2 linked regions of the Homo sapiens genome follow. The protein of the gene in region 2 interacts with the protein of the main gene of each other region in a pairwise test. Each region holds a gene or a part of one and is shown on either strand. Other genes may lie near its edges.

What was found. Proteins that work in one complex are often made in the same cells at the same time.
Region 1: the proteins of BTN3A1 (region 2) and PPL interact in binary tests that used the Homo sapiens proteins (3 or more experiments, as listed by UniProt).

What each region holds. Positions count from the first base shown.
Region 1 is NC_000016.10:4,892,132-4,899,157, forward strand, and holds part of PPL (periplakin), read right to left. Parts: intron 6,990-7,026; coding exon 6,882-6,989; intron 5,640-6,881; coding exon 5,544-5,639; intron 4,450-5,543; exon of another isoform or gene 3,586-4,449; coding exon 3,463-3,585; intron 3,304-3,462; exon of another isoform or gene 3,277-3,303; coding exon 3,130-3,276; intron 2,536-3,129; coding exon of another isoform or gene 2,488-2,535; coding exon 2,336-2,487; intron 1,508-2,335; coding exon 1,410-1,507; intron 1,240-1,409; coding exon 1,082-1,239; intron 83-1,081; coding exon 1-82. UniProt on the Homo sapiens protein: Component of the cornified envelope of keratinocytes. May link the cornified envelope to desmosomes and intermediate filaments. May act as a localization signal in PKB/AKT-mediated signaling.
Region 2 is NC_000006.12:26,405,256-26,412,281, reverse strand, and holds part of BTN3A1 (butyrophilin subfamily 3 member A1 isoform a precursor), read right to left. Parts: exon of another isoform or gene 6,911-7,026; 5' UTR 6,719-6,910; coding exon 6,634-6,718; intron 6,374-6,633; coding exon 6,026-6,373; intron 6,020-6,025; exon of another isoform or gene 4,612-6,019; coding exon 4,330-4,611; exon of another isoform or gene 3,560-4,329; coding exon of another isoform or gene 3,421-3,559; intron 2,750-3,420; coding exon 2,549-2,749; intron 2,389-2,548; coding exon 2,368-2,388; intron 2,277-2,367; coding exon 2,250-2,276; intron 1,174-2,249; coding exon 1,147-1,173; intron 728-1,146; coding exon 701-727; intron 1-700. UniProt on the Homo sapiens protein: Plays a role in T-cell activation and in the adaptive immune response. Regulates the proliferation of activated T-cells. Regulates the release of cytokines and IFNG by activated T-cells.

The DNA.
Region 1 (7,026 bases), on a different chromosome or scaffold from region 2:
GGAGGGCCTGGATGAAGGCTTCGCCCTCAGCCGTGCTCCGCGTCTTCTCAGGTTCAATCCGCAGTAGCTCGTTGGTGATGTTCTGTGGGAACCAGGGCCCCTCAGTTTTGGACACAGCCAGGCAGCCCCTTCCCCTGAGGATGTGCCCAGGGTGAGCACAGATTCCCACATCAGGCACAGTGGAAGCAGCTGGAGAGGCCTGGCACATTCTGGGGCTCTGACCCGGCATCTGGACCCCAGCCTGAGGGCTGTATTTTTCACGAGCATCCCAGGGAACCGCTGAGGTGGAATGGACTAGTGACACCAGAAGCACCCAGGCAGCTGCCGGGCCTGTGCTGTCCTCAGCACTGCACGCGGACGCTTCTGTTTAATCTTTGCGGCAACCCCGGGAGGTGAGTACTACGACTCCACCCAGTCACGGGTGGGGGTGTGACGACTCCCAGCAGCTTAGGAAGGGACTTGTGGGGTCAGGCTACACCCGAGACCGGCATCCTCTCGCCCTGACTTGGCTCTCACTCTGAGGCCCCATCAGGGGCTATGGCACTTCTCCAATCCCAGATCCTCTTCTGTAAAATTGGAGTGCTACTCACTGCCTCAGAGGGCTGCCTTGAGGATGTGGGAGACTTTGTATAGGAAAGGAGGTGGGGGGAGGTGGCCCCTCCACGTCCCCCCTGGCATCAGCTCACCCTGTCCTCGCCACTGCCCTGTGAGCAGGGCCAACCCATCCTACTGAAGACACTGAGGCCTGGAGTTTATAAATACAAACGCTAACGTGTTTGCAGTCAAGCCAGCCGGTGACCCAGTCCTGCGGAATTCCACAGCCCATGTGCCATGCCAGGCGTCAGATCGACAAGCCGTGCAGGAACAATGCAAGTCCTGCCAGCTCTTTCTCCTGGGGAGGTAATGACAGCAGCCCTGCCACCTCCATGACTTGGGACCCTTTTACATGCAGCAGGCTGTCCCTGACAGACAGCTGCAGTGAATATCCCAAGACTCCATGGGGAAAAGACCTCAAATAGGGGCCCCAGGGGGCCAGTGCAGGGCTCCCCCGGCCCCACCTGTGCTCCTGACCCGCAGGTACCTTGAGGTCCTTGGCCCGCTCGGCACTGTCCTGCACAGCCCGGCCTTGCTCCAGTGGTGGCCGCAGGATCCCTGTGATGGCCTTCTCCTGCCGGTCCAGGTCGCTGGCCACCTTGTCCAAGCCAGCCAGCAGCTGCCGCCCCTGTAGGTCAGAGGCATCTGTGGAGGGAGGGAGGACACAGGCAGGTGTGACAACGGGCCAGGGGTGTGAGGCCCAGGGATGGACCTAGGCAGCCAGCCCCCCGCCGTCTCATCCACAGCACAGACCCTGGTCCAGCCCCTCCTCCCCGGTACCCCCAGAGCCTCAGGCGAGTGGCCCTGGCACCCACCTCCGGGATTCTCGGTCTTCAGCACCTCATACCGCTGCTGCAGCGTGCGTTTGCTCCCAGCTGCCTTCTGCCGCACGCTCCGGTACTGGCTGCCCAGGCTGTGAGGACAGAAATGAGCTGGGAACCTGGGCAGCCCACCACCCCCTGCACCCACAGAGGCGGGACTGCGGACTCTGGCTGGGCAGACACCCCAGAGGAGCCTGACAGCTCCTTAGATGCGGACAGCAAGTGCTCACTGTGGCACTGGCCTTTCTGTGCTCCTGGGCTCAGAGCTCTTCTCCCTCCTTCCCTCCTCTTTCGTAGGAAGTCTCACTACCTAAAATTGTCTGTCCAATAATCACCACCAAGATGTTACTTCTGAGGGAGCATACACAGTAGGTGCTCAATAAATACTTAATAAATGAAGGCATTCCTTGAATGATCCACTCATTCAGCAAGGAGTTCCTGGGCACCTACTTTGTACCAGGTACTTAACTAGGCCCTGGAGAGAGGAAATTCAAGGAGCCCAGGCCCAATGAGACTGACGCATACGCTAGTCACTTAATAAAAAGCGGTGCGTGCAGTGGAAGAAGGTGCCTGGGAGCAAAGAGGAGGCAGCCCTTATCCCAGCTGAGTCCTCCAGCCAAGGGGCTGGGGTCTGCAAGTACAGGGAGCAGTGCGTGCGGGAGTCAGGGGCCCTTAGAAACTGCTTAGAAACTCGTGAGGGGGCCAGGACGAAGCCCAGAGCTAGACATTCATGTTTAGCAAGTCAGCTGGCCCACAATCTGCCCCTCTCCTGCATGAACTTCCAAGGGGGTGCAGATGGAGAGTGTCAGCGACCCCGCGCTCCCCACAGGCTGAGTCCAAATCCCCGGGGCTATGAATGGGGCCTGAGAAGCCCTGGGGGTGGGACTGGTCCATGCAGACTCCCGCCTTTGCCCTTGTACCTGTCAGCCAGAGCCAGGGCCTCAGGGTCTGTGGGGGGGATCACAAAACACACGGCCGGAGCAATCAGCTTGTTCCCAGCGCTGTCCATGAGCTCCCAGCTCTCCCCGTTGTTCTTCTGCAGGGTGTAGCTGTAGCCCCGCGAGATCAGGCCCTGGCGGGGGCAGGCTGGACAGTCAGGATCCCGGCAGGGCCTGAGGGCCTGGGAGCCCGGTTGCCATCTCAGCCCCCGACTCTTGGACCTGGGGAGCCCCGGCTCATCACTTGGACCCTCCCCGTAGAGTGGGGAGGGGCATGCAGGAGAAGCACATGTGTTGAGGCTGCCGGCCCAGCAACCCACCTCCATTTCCCTTTGGGGAACCTTCCCTCCCAATTCCCAGTCCCTGTGGTCTCTCCTTCTCCATTCCCAAGCTCCAGATGGACATGTGACTTGGACCTGGCCAATGACTGGCATTCGCCAGCCACAGTCATTGGTATAGGGTGGACCCTGGCATTCCCTGGCCACAGTGATTGGTGTAGGATGGACACGTGACTCACAGTGAGCCAATGAGAACCTGGCCTGGGACTTCTGAGGAGGGACTGGGGTTGCTAAGCTGGTGGAACACAAGGCCAGGGCAGCCGAGGTGGGGGCGGCATAGGGGTGCCAGTTGGCCTGCACCAGGGGAAGGGTTGGCAGAGTGACACCAACCACGGAGACAGGCACAGGCTCCTGAGAACGGCGCCTGAGGCCCGGGATCCAACCATGTTACCCCAAAAACTTTGTAGTGATGTGAACAGAGGAGCTGGCCCCACGCACCTGCTCCCCCTCAAAGTCACAGAGTGCCTCCACGGGGATGGGCTTGAGCGGAGTCTCCCGGCGGTACTTGAGGGGCACCACCTGCTGGCCTCGCTTCTGCAGCCCCTGCACCACGTCCTCATACTTGTCCAGCACCTTCTCCTGGTCCTGGAGAGAACGGGGTCAGGGGCCCAGGTGAGACCAACAGCCTTCCCCCTGGTGGGAGGACGCAGAGCAGGGGCTGGATTCAGCAGGTGGGGTGCTGTGGAGGGGCCTGTACAGGGCTGAGGGCAGGCATGGTGTAGAGGGGTCCCCCGCCCCCCGGGCCAGCAGGGGTCCTGGGCCATCGCTCACATCCAGCTCCCGCAGCAGCAGCTCAATCTGGTACCGGTCCTTGAAGTCAGGGCCATACTTCTGGTTCAGGTCCGAGTCCACCTTGCGCAGCAGCTCCTGAGCGTCCTTCACGTCTTCGTGAAACTAGGGGAGAAGGTGGCTCTGTTACAGCCAGGAAACCACTAGAAGCACCTGGGCTTCTGTCGGAGGCTTCAAGCTCATCCCTCAGGCGGGGCTGGGCCTCCGGTTCACCTGGAGTCCAGCATGGGACCCTGTGCTGAGCCTGAGGCTCCTCTGCGTGGAGACAGCCCCACCCTCCCTGAGCTGGCTCCTTAGGGGCCTCACTGGGAAAAGCCAGGTCCCTTCCCACCCATCCATGAGATGCCACCTCTGTGACATGTTTTCTTGGATGTATCAGTAAGTCTTGAGGTGTCTTTGATTCAGTTCCTCTCTCTGTACTAGGAACATCCAGACTTAATACTATAGCTTCTTTCTAGGTTTTGATAATAGCCTCCCCTTTTTGTTCTCGAAAATTCTCTTGCCCATTCTTCAGTCTATCAACTCTTGGTTCACTGTCAGCTATCCCCTGGGCTGAGCACCTGGGCTGCAGCCATAAACAGGACCTGAAGCCCCCACTGTGCGGCTCAGACAGGGAATGAGGAGTGACACGGCGTCGCCCACATCCAGCTTTCCCCAGACACCTCAATCCTAAGAATTACCCGCAGCTTCTTAAGAACTCTCATTCCTCTGGAAACAGACAAGTGTCCAGCCACAGATGAGTGGATAAACACAGTGGTCTAGCCATACAATAGGATATGATTCAGCCATAAAAAGGGGTGAAGCACTGAAAATGCTACAACACGGATGAACCCGGAAAACATGATGCTCAGTGAGAGAAGCCAGACACAAAAGGGCAGAGATTGCATGATCCCACTGATTCTTCATATTCGTTCTAGGTGTGACACTTCTGGAACAGGCAAGTCCATAGAGACAGCAAGAAGACCAAAGGTGACCTGGGGCTGGGGGAGTGGGAATGGAAAACTTACTGCCTAATGAGTACGGGGTTGTTTTTTTTTTTTTTTTTTGAGGCGGAGACTCACTCTGTCGCCCAGGCTGGAGTGCAATGGCGCGATCTCAGCTCACTGCAACCTCTGCCTCCTGGGTTCAAGCAGTTCTCCTGCCTCAGCCTCCCATCTGGGACTACAGATATGGGCCACCACACCTGGCTAACTTTTGTATTTTAGTAGAGATGGGGTTTCATCATGTTGGCCAGGCTGGTCTTGAACTCCTGACCTCAGGTGATCCAGTCGCCTCGGCTTCCCAGAGTGCTGGAATTACAGACATGAGCTACCGTGCCCAGCCAGGGTATAGGGTTTCTGTTTGGGGTGATGGAAAGTTTTGCAAGTAGATGGTGGTGATGGTTGCATAACATTGCGAATGCAATGAATGCCACTGAATTGTACACTTAAAAATGCAAACTGGCCGGGTGTGGTGGCTCACACCTGTAATCCCAACACTTTAGGAGGCCGAGGCGGGAGGATCACCTGAGGTCAGGAGTTCGAGACCAGCCTGACCAACATGGCGAAACCCCATCTTTACTGAAAATACAAAAATTAGCTGGGTGTGGTGGTGGGCACTTGTAATCCCAGCTGTTCAGGAGGCTGAGGCAGGAGAATCACTTGAACCCAGGAGGTGGAGGTTGTAGTGAGCCGAGATGGCACGACTGCACTCCAGCCTGGGTGACAGGGCAAGACTCTCTCAAAAAAAAAAAAAAAAAAAAAAAAGGCAAATTTTGTTTTATGTATCTGCATGTATATTATAGATTTTACCAAAATTAAAACCCTACACACTCACCCTGGGCCCCATGTGACCTGGGGAATCAGACTCTGGCCCTGGTCCCCAGGGAAGTTGGACAGGGGCCGGCAAGCTTGGGACATGTCTGCACACGCCATCAGAAGCATGGGTGCTGGGGGCCTGGGATGGCTGCCCCGCAAGGCTCCTGGACCAAGGAGCACGAGGCCACACATGAGCCAGGTAGGCACTGAGCGCTCTCAGAGAGTAGCACCCCCGGTGCTGGGGGGACTCCCAGGAAAGGTAAGTACCTGGTGGTAGTCCTCCATGTACTTGAGGTGGCTCTCCTCGCAGATGAGCAGGTTCAGGTACTCCTTCCAGTCTGCGTGCACAGCCTCCATGTGCGCCTGCCAGGAAGAGAAGGGGCCGGTCACCACTGGGCAGGTACTGCAGACACCAAGGGAGGGACTGCTGGGATATTGGGCTGGGGCATGGCGGGGGAGGGAGGCATCTGGCATCTGTCTGGGTGTGGCTACCACAGGGGTAGCCAGCTTCTGCTCAGGAGTGGGAGGAGGAGAGAGGGGTCACGTCAAGGAGCCAAACAGGGATGCCACATACGGATGCCCAGGCTGTGCAGTGCACAAAGGGCAAGTGGGGGCTGTGGTGCCTTCGGCAAATCTGTACAAAGGCACTGTCATGGACCGAACAGTGTCCCACCAAATCCATGACCCTGGCCAGGCATGGTGGCTCACACCTGTAATCGCAGCACTTTGGGAGGCCGAGGCGGGTGGATCACCTGAGGTCAGGAGTTTGAGACTAGCCTGGCCCACATGATGAGACCCTGTCTCTACTAAAAATACAAAAATTAGCTGGGCATGATGGTGTGCGCCTGTAGTCCCAGCTACTTGGGAGGCTGAGGCAGGAGAATTGCTTGAACCCGGGAGGTGGAGGTTGCAGTGAGCCAAGATTACACCATCGCACTCCAGCCTGGGCAACAACAGCGAAACTCCATCTCAGGCGGGGTTGGTGGCATTGTGGGGGTTGGGAAGAATGCGACCTTATTTGGGAATAAGATCTTTGCAGATGTCATTAGTTAAGGATCCTGAAATTAGGGTGAGCCCTAAATCCACTGACTGATATCCTTATAAGAAGAGAGGATACAGAGAGACATGGGGAGAGAAGGCCATGTGAAGACGGAGGAAGGGACTGGAATGATGCAGCCACAAGCCAAGGGCTGTTGGCAACCCCCAGAAGCCGGAAGAGCAAGGAAGGCACATGTCCTGGAGCTTCCAGAGGGAATGAGGCCCTAAGACACCTTGATTTCAGACTTACAGCCCACAGACCTCTGAGAGAATGAATTTCTGTTGTTTAAAGCCACTAAGTTTGTTTTAACTTGTTGCAGCAACTCTAGGAAACTAATACAGACCCCACAGGGGCTTCAGAAGTCCAGGGGCTGAGGGCAGAAGTGTCAACGGATCAGGATAAATGGAGGAGGCAGAGTCAGACACAGCAAGAAAGAGACAGACAGACACAAGATGCAGCTTGCAGGACCCCCAGCTCCGGGGTCTGCCCGAGCTCCAGGCGGCCCACAGGCAGCGGCCAACCAGAAGCCACCCTGGGGGAGGTGTCTGGTCTCGGGGTGCATGAACCTCAATGGAGTTCCTCCCGGGGTGCTCGGCCGCCAGCAGCTGGTCGCCCTCGCTGTGCAGTTTGTTGATTCTCTCCTCTTTGGCCTCCAGGTTCCGGTTGATGAAATTCTGCAGTGGGGGGCAGTGGAGGGGCCTCAGTGCCCAG
Region 2 (7,026 bases):
CTACTTCTTATTCTGGGTTCCAGTAACTGCCTCCCCTCCCTAGCCGTCCCAGTGTAGGAGTGGAGACAGCTCCCCACTGTTGGGAACCATGGGGGCACTGCACTTTTCCTTGTTGCTTTCCCTTAACCCTCCTTTCTGCAAACCTTCAACCACGCAGTTTGAACTCATCATCTCCTTCTTAAGGTTTTTGACCAATGGATATTTATTATTCCTTCAGTCTTCACCTCAACCCCCACAAACACAGATTGAAATCATCACCTAAATATGTGGAGGCCAAAGCTCAGAAGCATTAAGTTTTTTTGAGAAGGCACTGACAGTAGGTGGCATGAGAAGTCTGGGAAGGACTAAGTTCTTTGGGCAGGCATCGCCTCCTTTCCTTGGCATTTCCATCCTCACTCTCCCTGCAGTATTACTCAGTGTGTGTCTCCTTCCCCTCAGATCCACCCTTTATATGTCTTCCTTCCCAGGAAGGTCTGAGGAAGTGCAAGAGATCTATTCGCCCTGGTTCCCTGGGCTCTCAGCAGAAAGGGTCTTGGAGATGGGCCCACTTTTCAGATTGGAATTTAATGTTGCCTACCCCAAATTCTCCTAGTCATGGGAGCTTTTCTTCCCCAAATCACAACAGTTGGAGAAGTAAAAAGGAAAAAGGAATATAGTCCCTCAGGTTGTTGGTCCAGGGAACACACAGTGATTTACTCACCAGGCTTGAAGAGGGCCTTTTTCCATTCTGAAAGGAAGGAGACACAGATAAGGAAAAGGTCAGTATTCTTGTACTTTTCCCCACTGCACTCTCCCCTCACTACATGTTTTCTCTCCTTTTCTTCAGAGTCTCTTCCAGGGTCCAGCCTCCCTCTTCTACAGCTCTGATGGATCAGGGGTGGTACCTTCTCAAAAATGGTGAGCTCTGTTCCCTCTGCAATGAAGGGTACAGGCTGCAAGGCCAGGCTTTGCAAGGGGGTGTGCAGGGTCAGGAGTCTCTCTGATTCTCCAGAAAAGCAGAAATCAACCCCCCACAACACACAAATTGAGTCTTTGGGTTAAATCTGATTCATGCAAATGAGAACATCAATGGGTCACAGCAGAGAAAAGGTTGAAATGTTCATGGCACGTGTCCCAGCAAACTCAGAGAGCATCAGGTTCACTCACCATTATAGGCTGAATGTCTCTCTCCCCCTACAATGAAAAAAAGATAGAGATGTCACCTGAACTTGCCATTTTTGATTTGGCCCCATTCCCTTAACTTTACATCCATCTAATCTTTTTTTTTTTTTTTTTTTTTTTACCACCTGTATCTTCCTCCTCTGCAGGTTCAATTCTTTCTATTGTGTTGTTCTTAGTATCAAATCCAGGAACATCAGTCGAATGCTAGTGACATGGCAGACATTGCGAGAGTTCCTTCCTGATGGTGTTCAGCTGATCTATTTGGAATGTATCTATATACCTGTACCTGGGCATAGGTGTCTCCATGTCTATATGCACATATATATATACACATATATATATACATATATATGCACATATATATGTGTATATATGTATATATGTGTATATATATATTTAAATGTGTGTATGTGTGTGTGTGTGTTTGCAAGATCCTTCTATATCAATCTAATTTCGTACCTTACTCTGAAAAGAATTTGGGAAATTTAATGAGCAATTTCAGGGACTAGTGTTTGAAGTCAGTTAGAATAAATTGGTACCAACTGAGCGACTGTTCAGGCCACTTTTGTTTATTAGACACACTTTTCTCCCTCTCTCTTTTCAGATTTTCTTGTTCTTTATTATCTTTTATTCTTTTTCTTCTCTGGAGCCTATAGATTATGTAAAATGACTAGTGAAGTTCCTGCCATAGAGAATGCACTTCATCTACCTCTTCCCCCTTCCTTTACAAATGTGCCCCTGGATATTCCTCAGTGCTTTGCAGGGCTATAGAGTCTGTGGCCCCTGGTAGAGATAAATTGAAGGCATCTTTTCTTCGAGACCAGCTGAGAAAGAGAAAGAGAGGGAGAAAGAAACACTCCTCCTGGGTGTTACTCCAATCAGCCACACTCTTTCTTTTTTCCTTTCTTCTCTTTCCTTTTTTTTTTTTTCTTTTTGGCAATGACTAGGAATTGGCACATCTATTTTCTTTCCTTAGTCAAAGGGATCTAAGACCACTTCCCAACCTTGGGGAAAGAGTTAAGAGTGGAAACTATTCAAGCACAGACAGTTATAGATTCAAATTCAGAGAAAATGTCAGAGGCACTTACGAGATGCATACTGGATACTTCTCCATCCTGCAACGGAAGGAACAGGGGAAGATGCATCAAGGCGCATAAAGCAGGGACAGGAAGACATGCCTGGGTCTCTGGGGGAATGGGAACTTACTGAGTTCCTCCAGGAGCTTCACTGGAAAATAAGCAGAAATAATAATGAACTGTTACAGGTGAGGGGGTTTTCTAAAAAATTAACCTTAAAAGCAACTGAGCTCTGCGGTGGGGATGGGCGTGAGGTCTTTGGGCTTTGGCCCGTAAGCCAGGGGCTCAGATAAACTCCCAAGGTCAGCTACCTCTTGTGCTTTGTTCTTGCTTCATTGTGCTCCATGCCATTTCTCTCAACTCTTGCTCTCTCTTTTTCTTTCTGAACTGAGTCTTTTTTTCCTCCTGCTGTTGCCACAGGAAGTAACCGGCTCCCCCAAGAAGCAGCAGCAAGACAGGCAGGGTCCCTGCCAGGGCGGCGATCCACCTCTGGGCGCTCCTGAAGAAGGGGTCTGTGAAGGCAACGGCTGTGGGTCATGGGGGCCGGTGCACTCAGCCTCCCCAGACTGCAGCGCCCCAAGTGTTAGCTGCTCACCCCAGGTCACAGGGCACGGAATCTATCTCATGAGGTTAAATAATCTTTCTCATGCTAAAATCTCAGAGGACAGTGGGTAAGACTTTGATAAACCCCCACTAGAGGCTGCTACTATTACTTCTCTTGAGACGTCTGCCTCTCATGTGGAAAGTGAGTGACTTGAGGATATCAAACATATTTTTTTCTAATTCAACTTTTTAATAGGTAACACATGTACATGGTTCTAAAATACATGTATAAAAAGTCACGTAAGTCTCCCATCCACCCAGTCCTCCCTCCCACCCTCCCTTTCTTAACTTCAAATTAGTCTGCTTAATATGATGCTTAAGAACAGGAACTTTGGAGCTGGAGGCCCTGGGTGTCAATGCTGGCTCCTTTAGGTGACTTGCAGTGTGACTTTAGACTAATTACTTAACCTCTCTGTTCCTACTGCCCTTCTCCTGAAGTTAGAAGGATTAAATTAATACTTATAAAGTGCCTGACACCTAGTGAGTGTTATGACATTACTTGTTAACTTAAAAAAATGTAAATAAAAATATATTCTTGTTTTTCCTCTTATTTGCACTAAAGATAGCATTCCATACACACCACTCTGCATTTTGCTCTTTCTGTGCAAAGTTAATCTTGGAGGTTTTTCCACTTCACTATAGAGAGAATTATCTCTTTTTTCTTTCACAGTTGAGTGGTATCCATTGCATGAAAGTTCTCCAGCAGTGAACATCTGCATAGTTTCCAACCTTGTGCAGTCATAATCAGTGCTATAAAAAATAACTTTTTACATGGATCATCTCATACAAATGCAAGCTTATCTACCAAATAAATTCCCAGAAGCGGAATTTTGGATCACTAAAGATGTAGTTTGGATAGATATTGTTATATAGCCCCCAACAGAGGTTGTGCTAATGCACACCAAAAATACAAGTCATCCCAGCAGATGCCTAGGAGTCACAGCCTTCCTACATTCCTGCCATAACCATGTGTTATCAACCAACAGATGTTTGTTTTGATTTTTGCCAATACCATAAGTGAAAAATGATTCAGTATGTTTCTCTAATGAATGAGAACGAACACTCTTTTGTGAGTTATTTCCTTTTCTGTAAATTAAATAATTTATGACCTTTGTTAAAATTTTTTACTCAGTTTTTAAAATCTTCTGTCTCAAGGAGATTGGCTCTTTCTCTATGAGTTTGTATATATATATATATGCTTTCCCCTTTTGTCATTTGACTTTACATACGCAGCTTATCTTAACAATTATCCCCTAATTCCAATTACTGTTATACTTCTGGCAGACAGGAAATGTTCAGTAAATGTTTGCGTCATGAACAGCTTTATGGAGAAGAGAAGCTCCCCCGGTGCAAGGAGGAGCCTCCAGGTCTGTGCTTTGGGCCTTATATTCAGTGCAGAGACCCAGGTTGACTGCAGACACTAACACCTCCCCCTTCATTCAACTGCCACAGCCCAGCTCAGAAAACCTGAGGCCAAGCAGGTACTGACCTGCGATGGAAATGCTGGCTGTCTTTTCCAGGCCGAGGAGGGAACTTCTGATGGTACAGGATACACCCTCCCCAGAGCTGCCTCTCATGATCACAGATGCTGCTACTGCATACAGGCCCACTCCGTCTGCAACCACAGGTGCTTCCACAGTCGGGATGTTCTCTCCCTTGTTGTTGCTCCACTGTATTTGGGGTTGGGGGTACCAGCCAGTGGACCTGCACTCCAGATGGATCCCTCCATCCTTGTAACCCTTCACATCAACGTGAAGATCAGAACCCAGTGCTGTGGAAGGATGAATTAGCCTAAATTCTTGAGAGGCCTGTATCAGAGAGGGTCTCAAAAGGAATCATGGCACACTCACATTCCATAATTCAAGAACAATTTCATTTTAGAGCTGCTTACAAAAGTGTGGTCCTAGTGAGGAGAAAGCTACATGAATGAGTGCAGTATCCCAGGGTCAGTAACAGTGGGGCTATTCCCACCCACCACAGTTACCAGAGGGAGGAGGAGAGGGAGCTGTTTTGAAGACACAAAAGAAGAGATTTATGCATTAAGGACTTTCTTGAGAGGGGCAATGACCTTCAGCAAGGCAATGCAGCCAGCCTGAGGGTAACTTGCAGGAAGGAAGCCAGGGACTAAGCACCCAGATCTCTCTTTTCTCTCCCTCCCTTCATCGTCTGCTACAGATCCCTGCTGACCAAACCCTTAAACAGAAGCCACAGGGAAAAGCATTGCACTAAGAAAGAAAAGAGCAGTCCCTTTATCTGGAAGCAGCAACAGGACTCAGTGTCCTCCTGTTGAACAAAAGCAATTTCACAGAACACCAGCATCAGATGATGGCACTTTGTGACTATGATGGATCATGGGAAAAACAAGACCACCCCACATCATGTGTGAGCACAGAGAAAAACATGAACATTGTCCAAACCACAGCAGTGACCAAACAACCCCCATCAGCAATGAGGGATTGCTGTCCCTTCATCAATTACAGCTTTAGTCTCACCCTGGTCTCTTTCTTCCTAGATAAGATTGATTAAGGTTCTCACTCATAGAATTAACCTGCCCACACCTTCCTAGCAGTGTCTCATCCAGAGCAGAGGCCAAAGTCTATAAACCCTCCTCCCAAATCCCCTAACACAAGCCCAAATTATATACTAAGTCTGCTCTAACAGCTTCTTACTGAGACTCCACCACAGCTCCCCATGATATGTGTTCTTCCTCACTGCAACAAGTAAGAAACACAGCTCCCATGACTACAGGTGTATTCTAGGGTCATTGGCTCAAGAACATTGGCAGCAGATACAGTCCAGATAGCCCAGTCTTCTAGGGCCCACAATAGCATGTACCTAGTGGAGCCACAGAAGCCATCCAGTACAGAACTAAACACGAATGACTGTGTACTAGTCACTGAAGAGATGATTTCTTATGCTTTCTATCCCTTGTCCTTCACTTCCCTTATATCTCTGGTGGCCAGAGGAAAGGAGTTCTTTACTTGAGCATGTAGGGTACAGCAGGAATTCTTCCTAAAGGAAAACCTGTGTCTTACTCAAGGGCCTCAGAGAAGCTAAGTTGGGAGGCAGTGCAGGCAATTGCTAGTGAGCAGCCAGGAGTGTCTGCAGTGCTTTTGCAAGAGGGACTCTGCATCTGCTCTAGATCCTACAGAGAAATGTTCTCAGAACAAAACCTGGAGGCTCACCTGCAACCTTCAGCTCCACCAGGGCTTTTTCATAGAAGTCACCATCTTGGAAATAACACAAGTACTTTCCACTGTCAGAGGCTGTGACGTTGTGTATTCGGAGAGCAGCCTTCCCTGCAGTGATGCCATCCCGCAGAATCGAAGTTCTCCCTCGATACGGTGCACTCTGCCTGTCTTCCACTTCCTTTCCATCTGCATACACGTTCACCACCTGCCTTAGGCTGGAACTCACCCACTTCAGCTCCATGGTCTCTGCACTCATGGTCGGGAACAGGTGACAGGGCAGATCAGCGTCTTCACCCACCATGGCCAGGATGGGCCCAGAGGGTCCAAGCACAGAAAACTGAGCTGTAGGCACAAGGGGGAGGATCTGTCAGAGGGTTTTGGAGTTGGGGTCATGAGAGGAAGGGTGCTTCTCAGACAGGGAAGGCGAGATACAAAGAAACTGGTGGGGGAAACTGATCTTAACAGAAGCACCATTTGTCTCTTAGTGACGGGTGAACCTTCAGATCGGGATGGACTTCAGGTTTGGGAAGGAGTCAAAAGTCCTATGAGGACATAATTAGGTAATTGTCTGCTTCAGAAACAAGCGTGGAATTGTTCCCTACCTGAGTGAGGCATGAGCAGCTGAAGCAAAAGGAGGCAGACACGAAAGTTGAGCAGAAGGAAGGCCAGGAAACTTGCCATTTTCATTCATGCTGCATATCAGGAGATACTGGAAGGTGGGGGGCAGACACTATGACCTGGAAGAAGCTATAGAATTCCAAATGGAAACCTCCACTTCCCTAGAGCTAACTCAAGTATGGTGACCGAAGAAGATCTTTCCTCTGCCAAAAATTCTGTCCTTCAGTGTCTTCACCTTTGAGTCCCAACATTGAAAATCACCTGTAAAAACATGTCTATGTGAAATGCACATCTGTTATTCGATCAGAAAATCCTCACTGTACTGTTTAACAATATTCAGAATCCTATGACTTCCCCAAACTTCCCCTGCCAAGTCC